2 separate regions of the Homo sapiens genome follow, and region 2 is linked to region 1. Evidence: fine-mapped expression QTL. A gene starts in region 1. The other region holds a variant in brackets. All regions are shown on one strand. Distances are between the middles of the regions.

Region 1 (5,380 bases):
TCTAATATATATTAGATGTTCTACTCACCATAGCATCCCTTTAAGTAGTGGTATCCCCATTTTCCAGAAATGCAACTGTAGATCACAGAGGCTGAAGTGGCATGGCCGAGCTCACTCACCTCGGGAGTGACAAAGTCACACGTGCAACCCAAGTCTGGCTGGCAGTGGGGTAAACATTCTTTCCACTATACAGAATACTTGGAAACTCTCTCTACACTTTGAATTTTTAAGTCTATTTAGGGTTAGAGCAAGTTAGCATCAAAGAAGAGTAAATAAACGTTATATTATTTTGTAATCCAAATCTTTAATTTATGATGCATGTTTTTCTATCCAACTCCCATTCCCACTCCACTTTTACTTGCAAAGAGTTTTGTAATGTTTTGAACACTAGCAAGATATCTAAGATCTTAATGTTTTATAATAAAGGAGCAAAGCCATTATGCCAGGAATTAACCATAAGAAAAAGACAACAATATCCCACGGCAAACAATATTTTTACTTCCAAGTCATTATATACATCAACATAAAACAGATCAATTAATGAGTCAGAAACCCTGAAGAACTAATCATTTCTCAAAACACAAGGCAGTCAGGTCAAAAACTGACGTAAGTCACCACGTATAGAAGCCTACAAGAGCCAAACACTGAAGATTCAGGTTAAAAGGTTGCAACCTTAAAAAAATAAATAAAAGGCAAAACAAATTATACAACCATGTCGAATTTTAAATCTGTAATTACCAAATATCTGAACCAAATGCCAAATTCAGGAAACATGCATCCTATAAACAACTTAAACACTCTCTGTTCTTTGTAACTGTTTTTTCCAGAAGCACACTGACACTTCTGCAAAGTGAAGTGCCTTTCCTGCCTGCACAGCCCCATGATTTGCTCCCTCTCAGGGCCCTCTAATGCACCCCTAAGCTACTAAAGCCCAGACATAAGATTTGATCAATAAACCTAGAAAGAACTCAGTGCATTACTGCCAATTGTGTCCATCACAGAAAGTACCACCTGGAGACTCTTGAGGAAAAAAATGAGGAAGGGGGAGATTTTTGAAAGGTTTTATCATCTGTATTACAAATTATATTTTGTTGTACTTGATCCTTGAATAGAATAATCATCAAACTATGTTCAGTCTTCTTCAAGTGGGGGATGGTCATGTGTAATTTTATGGTTTGGGGAGTGTGCCTCATAGAGATAAATAAAATTAAAAGTACCATTAGTATGCCCGCTAAAAGATAAAACTCACACAAACCACTTCCCCAAATGATAGTGCTGTCTCCTGCGTCCTGATTTTTGCGTCCACCCTGCACCTCTCCCTGCAGAAAGCTGGCTGGCATTCACTACCGCCTCACTCTGGCAAAGGACAGGATGTCGAAAACCCATTAAGAAAGCTTCTCATTTTCTGTTCCTTCATAACATGATGGCAACTCCTGGCAACTCCAAGATGAAAGGCAAAAAAGAAAATAAAAACTACCTGGGGCCCCCTACCAGAATGAGTGGTTAATCTAATGGAGAGAAAAGCAGAGATTTATACATATTTTAAAATGCTTCCTGGGGACAAAGCAGATCTAATGAATTGCTGAGCCACAATCTACTGGAAAATCCATAAATGTTCGTCCCTGCTGTCACAGGGCTAGAGGATTTTTTTTTTTAATGAAATGCTTTAATGCTAACCTGACAGGGCTAACCTGACAGGTTTAAGTCAGCTATGAGACGTGATTTGCATTCATTTCGCTTCTAAATCCCTAAAGATCAGCAACAATATTGACCCGCAATTATATATCCTACGTTGCACTGTTCAAGATGCCATTTGAGGCTGGGAAAGTAGTGGTTTAGCAACACCAGGCGGCTCTATGATGCTAAAATAACAACGCAACACTGGATTCCGAACCCAAGTACTCATCTTTTAAAACCCAGTGCCGCACCAGGACCCACATTCAAAGCTCGCGTCCCTTCAAGTTGAATCTTCCGGCTTTGTGCGATTTACCCTCTCAAACTTTCTAGTTTGCAAGTCAGAATTACTTTGAACGTCCCCTCTTCTGGACTCCCCTCCCCAAAGGGACTGGCGGCAAAGGAGAATAGAATGCAGATGGTTAATAGTTCAAATGAAATTTAAAAACCTATAAACCAATATTTTTTTAGAGGAGAAAAGCGTTCACCAAACCGCCACCCGGCAAGCGAGCATCCGATTTCCATCCGGAGGAAAAAATATTTTAAAAACCAGACATAAAATTCCCTTTGCAAGAAAAGTGGCCTCTAAACTCCCTTGCCAAGGACACTGGGAGGAAGCAGAAAAGCAAAGACCAAGCTCGTACTTTTCAGTCCGCGGCTTGTGTGCCGCGAGGAGAGGCGCAAAGGGTGACACACCAGGAAAGGTGAACGCAGAGGGAGCGGGAGCCCGCGGCGGGGCAGGGTGGGGGCGGAACGGACGAGGTACCCAAGGTGCGGAGAGAGGGGCAACCGGGCGGAGGGCAGCTCCGAGGCTGCAGGCGGGACGGGCGGGGTCCCCGGCGCAGCCCGGATCGCCGCCGCTAAGTAAAGTTAATACTTACTCAGTTTCGCAACTGCGCCGCCCCCGCAGGCCGCCCAGAGGGGCCGGCCGGGGCGCTGGGGACGCGGCGGCACCCGGAGCTCCGCGGCCGCCCAGCGCCCGTCCCCGCGCCGCACTCCCCGGCACTCCCCGGCGCTCCCCGCGCCGCGCGCCCCGCACCGGCTGGAGGCCCCGGCCCCCCGGCGTTCCCTCTCCGCGCACCTCCCGGCCCGCGCTAGGTGAGTGTGGACGCCACTGGCGGGGGTGCCGCGGTGCGCGAGCGCTCGGCCAGCGGCAGAGACGCCGCGGGAGCCGCCCCCAGCGCCAACGCCGCCGCGGGCGGGAAGGGCGAGGCTCGGCGAGGCTGGGCGAGGAGCTGGGCGGCAGACGCTGAGCGGGGCGCGGCGCGGGGCGCCGGACGAGCGCGGGCGTAGGAGGAGCGCGGGCGTAGGAGTCGGCGACCCGCTCGCTCCCGCGGCCGGTGCCTCTGGGCTGGGGGCCGGGCTGGGGGCCGGGCCGGGCCGGGCCGGGCCGGGCGGCCAGGCGGCTCCGCCCCTTCGCCGGGCAGCGGCTGAGCGCGCGAGAGGAGCGGCGCGGGGGCGCCCCCCTCGGCCGGGCGCTCGGGTTTCAGCCGCCGCTCCTCCGCGCCCCGCCCGCGCCTGGCCCGCTCGCCGGCGCCGGGAGAGACCTCGTAACGGAACTGGGACGCCAGCGCTGCATTGTGGGAGCTTTTAAAGCGGCGGGGAGCTCGGCGCGACCCTCGGGCCCACCGGGCCACGCTCGCCCGGCCCGCGACGCCCCCCCGCTGTCGCCTGGCCCGCGACGCACCGAGGCCTGAGGACCCGAAAGCCGGGCGCGGGGAGATGACCGGTGGCTCGTGACGGTCCCACGGGCAAAATCTTCCATCGCCCGGGGCTGAGACTTGTCAAACTGCCCTCTACGGTCACCCGGAAAGTAGGAGGCTTTTTCTGCAGAGGGGAAAAAAATCAAAAAGAGCCGTTCCATCCCCCCTCCAAGGACTGGGTTTGAATTGCTTTTCATCTGCAGTGGCTGTGATTCAGCGTCCCTCTTAGCAGCAGGCAATGACAGAGGCAGGAGAGGGGAAAAAAAAAAAGAAAGAAAGAAAAAACACAGCAAATGAATCAAACGGACGTGAGTAACAAAAGTTTAGAAAGAGCTGGGCTCGTATTCAGAAAAAACGCCTCATCCCCCCGCCCCGCTGCACTCCCAACCCCTTTAAAAATAGCAGATAATCAAGAAAGGAAACGGGTGCTTTCATATGGAAATACAGATGTGTATGTTGTTTTCAATATTCTACTGTTTTTTTGTGTGTGGCATGCAATTACTCAGGCACTGGGCAAAATTCAGCCTTTGGATTTTGTGGTCACACATACCCCAACTCCGCAACAGCTATTAATTTGCAGGGCGATGGGGTGCGGATAGTGGATGAGATACAAGAAAGCATTCCAATTAAAATGCCCCCCCCCACCCCGCCTTTTAATTTTCCAGACACTTGCTTTTATTTTTCTTTTTTTAAACATCATCAAAACAAGAATATTAAACTTGAAGCAGAATTTGTTACAGCGTATCTGACTCAGGACCTGATTTAAGGTTTGGGGTTTTTTGGCCCTTTGTTTCTTCCTCTTGTTTTTTGACCTTTAGTTACTCCACACCTCATTAGTTCCTTGACCTGCAGGTGGACTGAGAAGAGAGCCATGGTAAGACTCAAATTTGTCAAATCAACATTTGGAGAGGAGAAAGTTCACTGTGATTCAAATGCAAAACCAAAGGGAATATGATTTAAAAGTCAACCTGGAGGGCATGGATCCTCCCTTAACCCTACTTGACTCTTTTCAAAGGAGTTGCCTAGCCTTAAGGTGAATGTTTCCTAACCTCTCATTCCCTTCTCAGCCTTTCACTCCACTGAACAACATCAGCCATTGCTTAATTGCCAAATCTAATGGAAAAATTTAATTCCCATCTTGTGCCCTTTGTGGCATTTGCCAATGTTGACCTCTCCTTCTTAGAACTTTCTGCCTTTTGGCCGGGCGCGGTGGCTCATGCCTATAACCCCAGCACTTTGGGAGGCCAAGGCTGGCAGATTGCCTGAGGTTGGGAGTTCGAGACCAGCCTGACCAACATGGAGAAACCCCGTCTCTACTAAAAATACAAAATTAGCCGGGCATGGTGGCACATGCCTGCAATCCCAGCAACTGGGAGGCTGAGGCAGGAGAATCGCTTGAACCTGGGAGGCAGAGGTTGCAGTGAGCCGAGATCACGCCATTGCACCCCAGCCTGGGCAACAAGAGCGAAACTCCATCTCAAAAAAAAAAAAAAAAAAAAAAAAAAAACTTTCCTCCTTTCTTTGGCTGTGGTAGTGATCCCTCTTTTGTGTACTTCTTGAAGCAGGTAGCAGGCAAGAGTGTGGTTATCGTTGGACCAGGATTCAGGATCTGACTGAGTAGCTGACTCTTAATCCAGTTTGTGTTGATCACCAGGAGGATCTGGACCTCAGTATTACCACATCTAGAGGTGAGCAAGTTGACTGACTCTTGATAACTAACTCTTATATGATGAGCATTTATATCAGGACAGAACTTCCTGATTGGATAACAATACCTACTATTTAGGAAAAACCCTTCCTAAAAATCCAGGTATCCTCACCTCCAGTCTTACTGATGGCTGCCAAAGTCAGTGAATTTGCCTCCATTCAGTGCTGGATAAGTGCAGAAAAATCTTTACCCTACCTAGCCCATTTGGTTAATGCGTTCTTTCTTCAGAGTGTAGTACAATTTGTTTTAAGCTTTTTTTTTTTTTTGGTAGCTATAATCACATCCCTGTTAAGCC
Region 2 (5,323 bases), 110 kb before region 1:
ACTGTATTTATATAGTTTTTACTCTATCAGTCTTGCTGTAGCTCTTGTTTATGACTAATTTGAACTATAGGAATTGATGATTACCTCATTGATGACTGGGAGAATTAAATAGGTAACTCCTATTAATACCAACTGAAGTCTCATATTATAAAAAAGTCCCTGTGCATCAAGACAAAAAACAAAATGTTATCAAACCAAAATATCTCAGAAGGACAAGAAAGGGACTATGGACACTATGTCCACAGGCAACACACTATGGGCCATTCTCTGAGGATGACAGACACTCAAAAGGTCAAATATACCAATGCTATTCCAAATTATTTCTTGGTAAGATAAAAAGATCTTTAAATGTATTTAATACTTGTAGAAAATCACAATAAAACAAGTTGCAATATGATTTTTTTAAAAAAAACACAAAACATTGAAATCTAATTTAGTATTTAGAACCTGAACATTCCCCCAGATGAAAATTTTATATTTGGTATTTTTGTATACCATTGCCCACTACCCCTCCGAAATGTATCCAGGATGTGGCACTTATCTAATTCATTTGTATTTGCAATAGATAAAAATGATCACAAATATACTAAAGTATCTTCAGATGATCCTATGAAAACGAGTTTTTTTCCCTCTGAGTCTTAGAAAATATTCCTTAGATATGTGCTTCCAGAAGTAATATAACTAATTAAAAAGTACAGCTTCTCAATGTATTCAACATATTCACATTTCTATACTTTCGTCGCCTAGGAAATTTTTTTAAATCTGTAATTAGGTCTATGAAGATTATTTGGCAGCTTGGAAATTCTGATGAAGTTGTCAGAGAGGTTAACTGTGATACTCTGCTGGGAACCCAAGACTACTACAAGTTGCTAGGATGCTGCTTGTCCTTACTTAAAGTTATTAGGTTAATTCTGATAACAATTTATAATGAGTTGGATATTGACAGTGTTTTTCGTGGTATGCCAAGGCATCTCTGAAACTCCTAATTGCAAAGTTTAATACTGCCTCCAGTTTAACATTTTGACTTAAAGAAAATGCGATCAATTTATAAAATGTTTTTCTTTGTGAATAAGATCTTGATTTCTCTGAACAACAACAAAATGACTTTATACAGAATGACTTATTTAAAAATAAGGCATATATTGGGCATATGTAAATCATTACTGTCACAAAATCTATAAATTATTTTTTAATCATCCTAATTTTAAATATAGGTAGATAGAAAATAACTACTATAAATTGTGAGCAAATGTGTACAGGTTGTGGTTATTTAGGTAAGAATCATTTACTTCAGTTATTTGCAAAGTAACATAATGGCAAGATCAATTTGATAACTCCAAGAACCCAAAGAAACTCATATCTTCAGTTGAGGTCCGCCACTTAGCTGCACTAGAAAAGGCAACTCTGCATTATGACTTTCAGTTCTCTAGAAGCTTCTATACAGTCTCATAGCCATTCTTAAAAATTTCATAGGAAACCTAAGTAGAGCAGCATTGTCAGCATTCACTAAACCAAAGTCAGTCAAATGTGTTAAAACATCCAAAGTTGCCTTCATGCATAAGACATAGCTCTATTGTTACCATGGCATTACTATATTAATCCACTTTTATTTTGTTGCATGTAAATAATACAGAGGATGTAACTTCTTCAGAATTAAAACTACTTTAAATTTCAGATTAAAGTCTTAATTATACTGTACCAAATCTAACCAGAGGGAATGTAAAAATGGCTAAGTGGTGTCTGACTGAATCTGTCTAAATATTACTTGTAAATCTTAGTTAAGTCACTACTCATCAAAAAGGTGTTGAGTCATATTTGGTTTTACAAATAAAATAACATATGTACAAATGGAGATTAATGTCTTGTAAAAGTCAAGCCTAAAAATAAAAACATATGCTGAATTTGACTTTATATCCTTGCTAAAAAGTACCTAGGTTTAACCTCCTTTCCATCTAAGTGACTGGAAGAAACCACAATGG[T/C]CCATAATATGCAGAGCAAATTATGTGCAAGCAATACCTTACCCATGGTGTGTACACCAACAGATCATACATATGAAGCGGGTTATTTTAAAATACATCACTTAAAGCAATGTTCCTGAAGTAGACCAACCCAGCTTTCAGGTATCTATAACTTCCATGTTAGATTAATTCTGAAGATCCATGAGTGTAAATGATAAGACAGGGCAGAAACAAAACACATAATGTATCAGGAAACCCCATGCCTGTTTGGATACATACTTACCAATTACATTTTTGTTCAACAGTGTCTGAAACACTGCAAATGTTTTATACATACAATTTAGCTTATGAAAAATATCTGTTATGCTCTGTGGCCACACGTATATTTGGAAATATTGTAAAGGAACGACTAAATTCCAGATTTAAAAAACCCTGAATTATTTCACCTAATTAAGCAATGGCTAGGACAGTTTCACAAAACAAATGCAAGTGGCTTCCTGTGGAGTTAGCTTCGATGGTGGAGCACCCTAGGACACTTGTGTAGTGTAAATCAGCAATGCATGGATGGAGTCTGGCAACATGCACACGGTCATAATCACACAATATGTAACGTAAGTCAGTCACAGGATAAGTCAATAAAAATATTAAAACATCAACATTCACACATTGATTACATGAAATAAATTAAACTAAGCCAGTCACAAATTTCTCTTCACTCTTACTTAAGTCACGGCTTATTTATGTATACACACTATATAATACTTTCCTAAAGCTCTCAAAATGCTACAAATAAAAACGAAGGCTTTGCATTATAGCTGCTGGACAAAAATATCAACACTGTTGATGTGTGAAAACACAGTTTCTTTGTTCTTTAGCATCAGTGCACAGGGTATGGCTCCAAGTGGTATGCAATTTAGGAGAGAAAAAACATACAGCGTCTTGTGGAATAGATCCTCTGTTCATCATTGGCACAAATCAAAAAGGAAGTTTACTGTCCTTGGTACCTCTGTTGGGTCTCCTCCCTAAAGACAGATAATGTCATACATATATGCCTTCAGGATTAAAACCAGATGAGATAGGATTCTGCAGAATGCGGAGATTACTGGGGAGCTGCCGAGATGAACCAGGTCGCTTCAGGGACCCAGACTGGAATGGTGCCTCTAAACAGGAAACAAAGAGAGCCACCTGATGAGCTCGTCAACTTGGAGTACTTAGCAATATAAAAAATCAGACTGCTTCCTACCCCAAAAGGGAAAACTGCATAGAGCAATAATTGCAATCCCCTGTGTGCCCTGGGCTGGGGGAGAAGGCTAAAACCTTCTCAGGTCTCTTTGATAAACTAGTTTTTGTTGATTTGAACAGTGAATGATCTTTACAAAAGGTGAATATTCTGCTTCTTTTTTTGGTTGTTCACACCATATGCATACACAGATTTGGAATTGTCTTTTAAATATCAGCACAAATTAATAATAACTTTTAGAAGAAAAAGAAGGAAAAGGGGGGCATAAGGAACAGAGAAGCCAAAATTCAAATTAATAGACTATAACTCATATATACTTCAGAAAAAAGTTTTAATAAAGAAGTAGTTTCAAACTAATGATATGACATTTGGTGATTACATGCTCACCTAAGTAAATAAATAACCTAAATGTTACTGGTTTTCCTCTAGAAATGGGAAATATTTTTTTAAAAAAAGAATTTTTAAGTGTCCCACTTAAAAATTAGCTATGAATGTTAGGGTAATATTTTAACTGAATACAAGTAGTTTATTCAAAGTTAAGCAGATGGTCGGGCATGCTGGTTCATGCCTGTCATCCCAGCACTTTGGGAAGCTGAGGCAGGCATATCACTTGAGCTCAGGAGTTTGAGACTAGTCTGGGCAATATGATGAAACCTCATCTCTACAAGAAATACAAAAAAAGAAAATCAGCCAGGTATGGTGGCATGCACCTGTAGCCCCGGCTACAGGAGGCTGAGGTAGGAGGGTCACCTGAGCCCAGGAGGTCGAGGCTGCAGTAAGCCGTGGTAATACCCCTGGCATTCCAGCCTGGGCGATACAGTGATACTATCTCAAAAAACAAAAACAAAAAAAGTTAAGCAGTGAGAATAAAGGGAAAATAAACCATATTTATCAACATCTTACCCCTTTCAATGTCTGCATGTGAGGCCTCTATTTCAATGGGCTCCGCTGGCAAAACGGTAACTTTTGTCCCTGTCTGCTGGATGAACTGCTGGAGATTGACTTGCCGCAACTCCTTAGTCAACTGCTCCAGTTCCTGTTCTTTGTCCTAGATGGAAATTATTATTTTTTTAAATTTGAGGATTCACTACTGGACAGTGCAAGACATCTTTGTGAGGATCCATCTGCTACAGGGGTTAAATGTGCAACATCTGCTTTCATAAAAGCACATTTAACAAATCTGGTTTATATTGACACAATGGGCTAAAGAGGTCACTTTCACTCTGTGGTGTAGGCCAAGAAATAAGCCAAGGGAAGACAACAGTTTCATTAGTCTGTCCTCTTAAATGTGATGCTTTCCTCTGGAAAACCATTATGCACCCTTCTGAAATAAATATGTCTATAAACTTTCATTAAAAAACAAAAACAAAAATGGGTTTCTCAGTCTGTAAACTCATTGGTGGAAAATAAAAAGAAAAAACCCCACAGGTTTTTACCCATCTCTGTGTTGCAGCAATCTTGCTAAGCTGGTCACAAATTTACATATTAACCACTTCATATTAACTTATAACTACAAAGTTAATTGTAATTTGTTCCATGGATTTAGAGTTCTTGTTTTTGTAAGCTGTTTCAATTTTCATGGGATACATTATTGAGATTTATCTTACAGCATGAGGAAAGCAAGATTCCCACAAGATTCTCACTATGGAATTCCTAAATCCTTGACAAAGATCTGAGAACTACAGAGTCCTACAGAAGGAGATCAAGTTTGGATAGCTGGAAAGCTGTAAAAGCAAGGAGGGGCATCCTATTATTTAAACAGCTTTTCATTTCTTTCTTTCCTCTACTGTATATAAGAAAAAGTACCCTGGCTCTACCCAGGCTGGGTGGGTCCCAAGGATTTGGTAGGGGTTGGGAAGAGATTAGAAGTGAATGGTTGTTTTCTCCACTTATTTGAGTGTAGGGGGTACTTGGGGATATATCAATATTTGATTATCAGACACTTTTCAGTGGGTAGAGGGATTTGCTAGTAATGACTGTGATAAGTTAGTGTTTTCTGTGATATCAAAAGCAACACAACTTCCACTTGTACCTTTTTTTAAATGTCAAAATGAATCCCAATAGTAAAATACTGACAAATTAGAGGCTGACAAGCTTCTACTGCATGAGAAATTCTTGATTTTCA

The links. PIP is the estimated chance that this variant, and not a neighbour inherited with it, causes the effect. A credible set is the group of variants that fine-mapping cannot tell apart.
Region 2: its variant is the best candidate, but not a certain one, in a credible set for the expression of RASSF8 in skeletal muscle (GTEx, PIP 0.57).

What each region holds. Positions count from the first base shown.
Region 1 is chr12:25,956,324-25,961,703 of GRCh38, reverse strand. It overlaps RASSF8 (Ras association domain family member 8), which reads right to left and starts at 3,022. Exons shown (of 6, transcript NM_001394098.1): 1 at 2,556-3,022. RASSF8-AS1 (RASSF8 antisense RNA 1) reads left to right here and starts at 2,262. Exons shown (of 4, transcript NR_038228.1): 1 at 2,262-2,378; 2 at 4,940-5,065; 3 at 5,357-5,380. RefSeq lists silencers at 2,411-2,460, 2,601-2,650, 2,721-2,820, 2,921-3,410.
Region 2 is chr12:26,066,492-26,071,814 of GRCh38, reverse strand. It overlaps RASSF8 (Ras association domain family member 8), which reads right to left. Exons shown (of 6, transcript NM_001394098.1): 5 at 4,102-4,246; 6 at 1-3,118. The coding sequence ends at 2,997. Among named protein-coding and RNA genes, the nearest start is that of BHLHE41, 56 kb to the left of the region's middle. The variant T/C (reference allele first, on the strand shown) is at 1,980.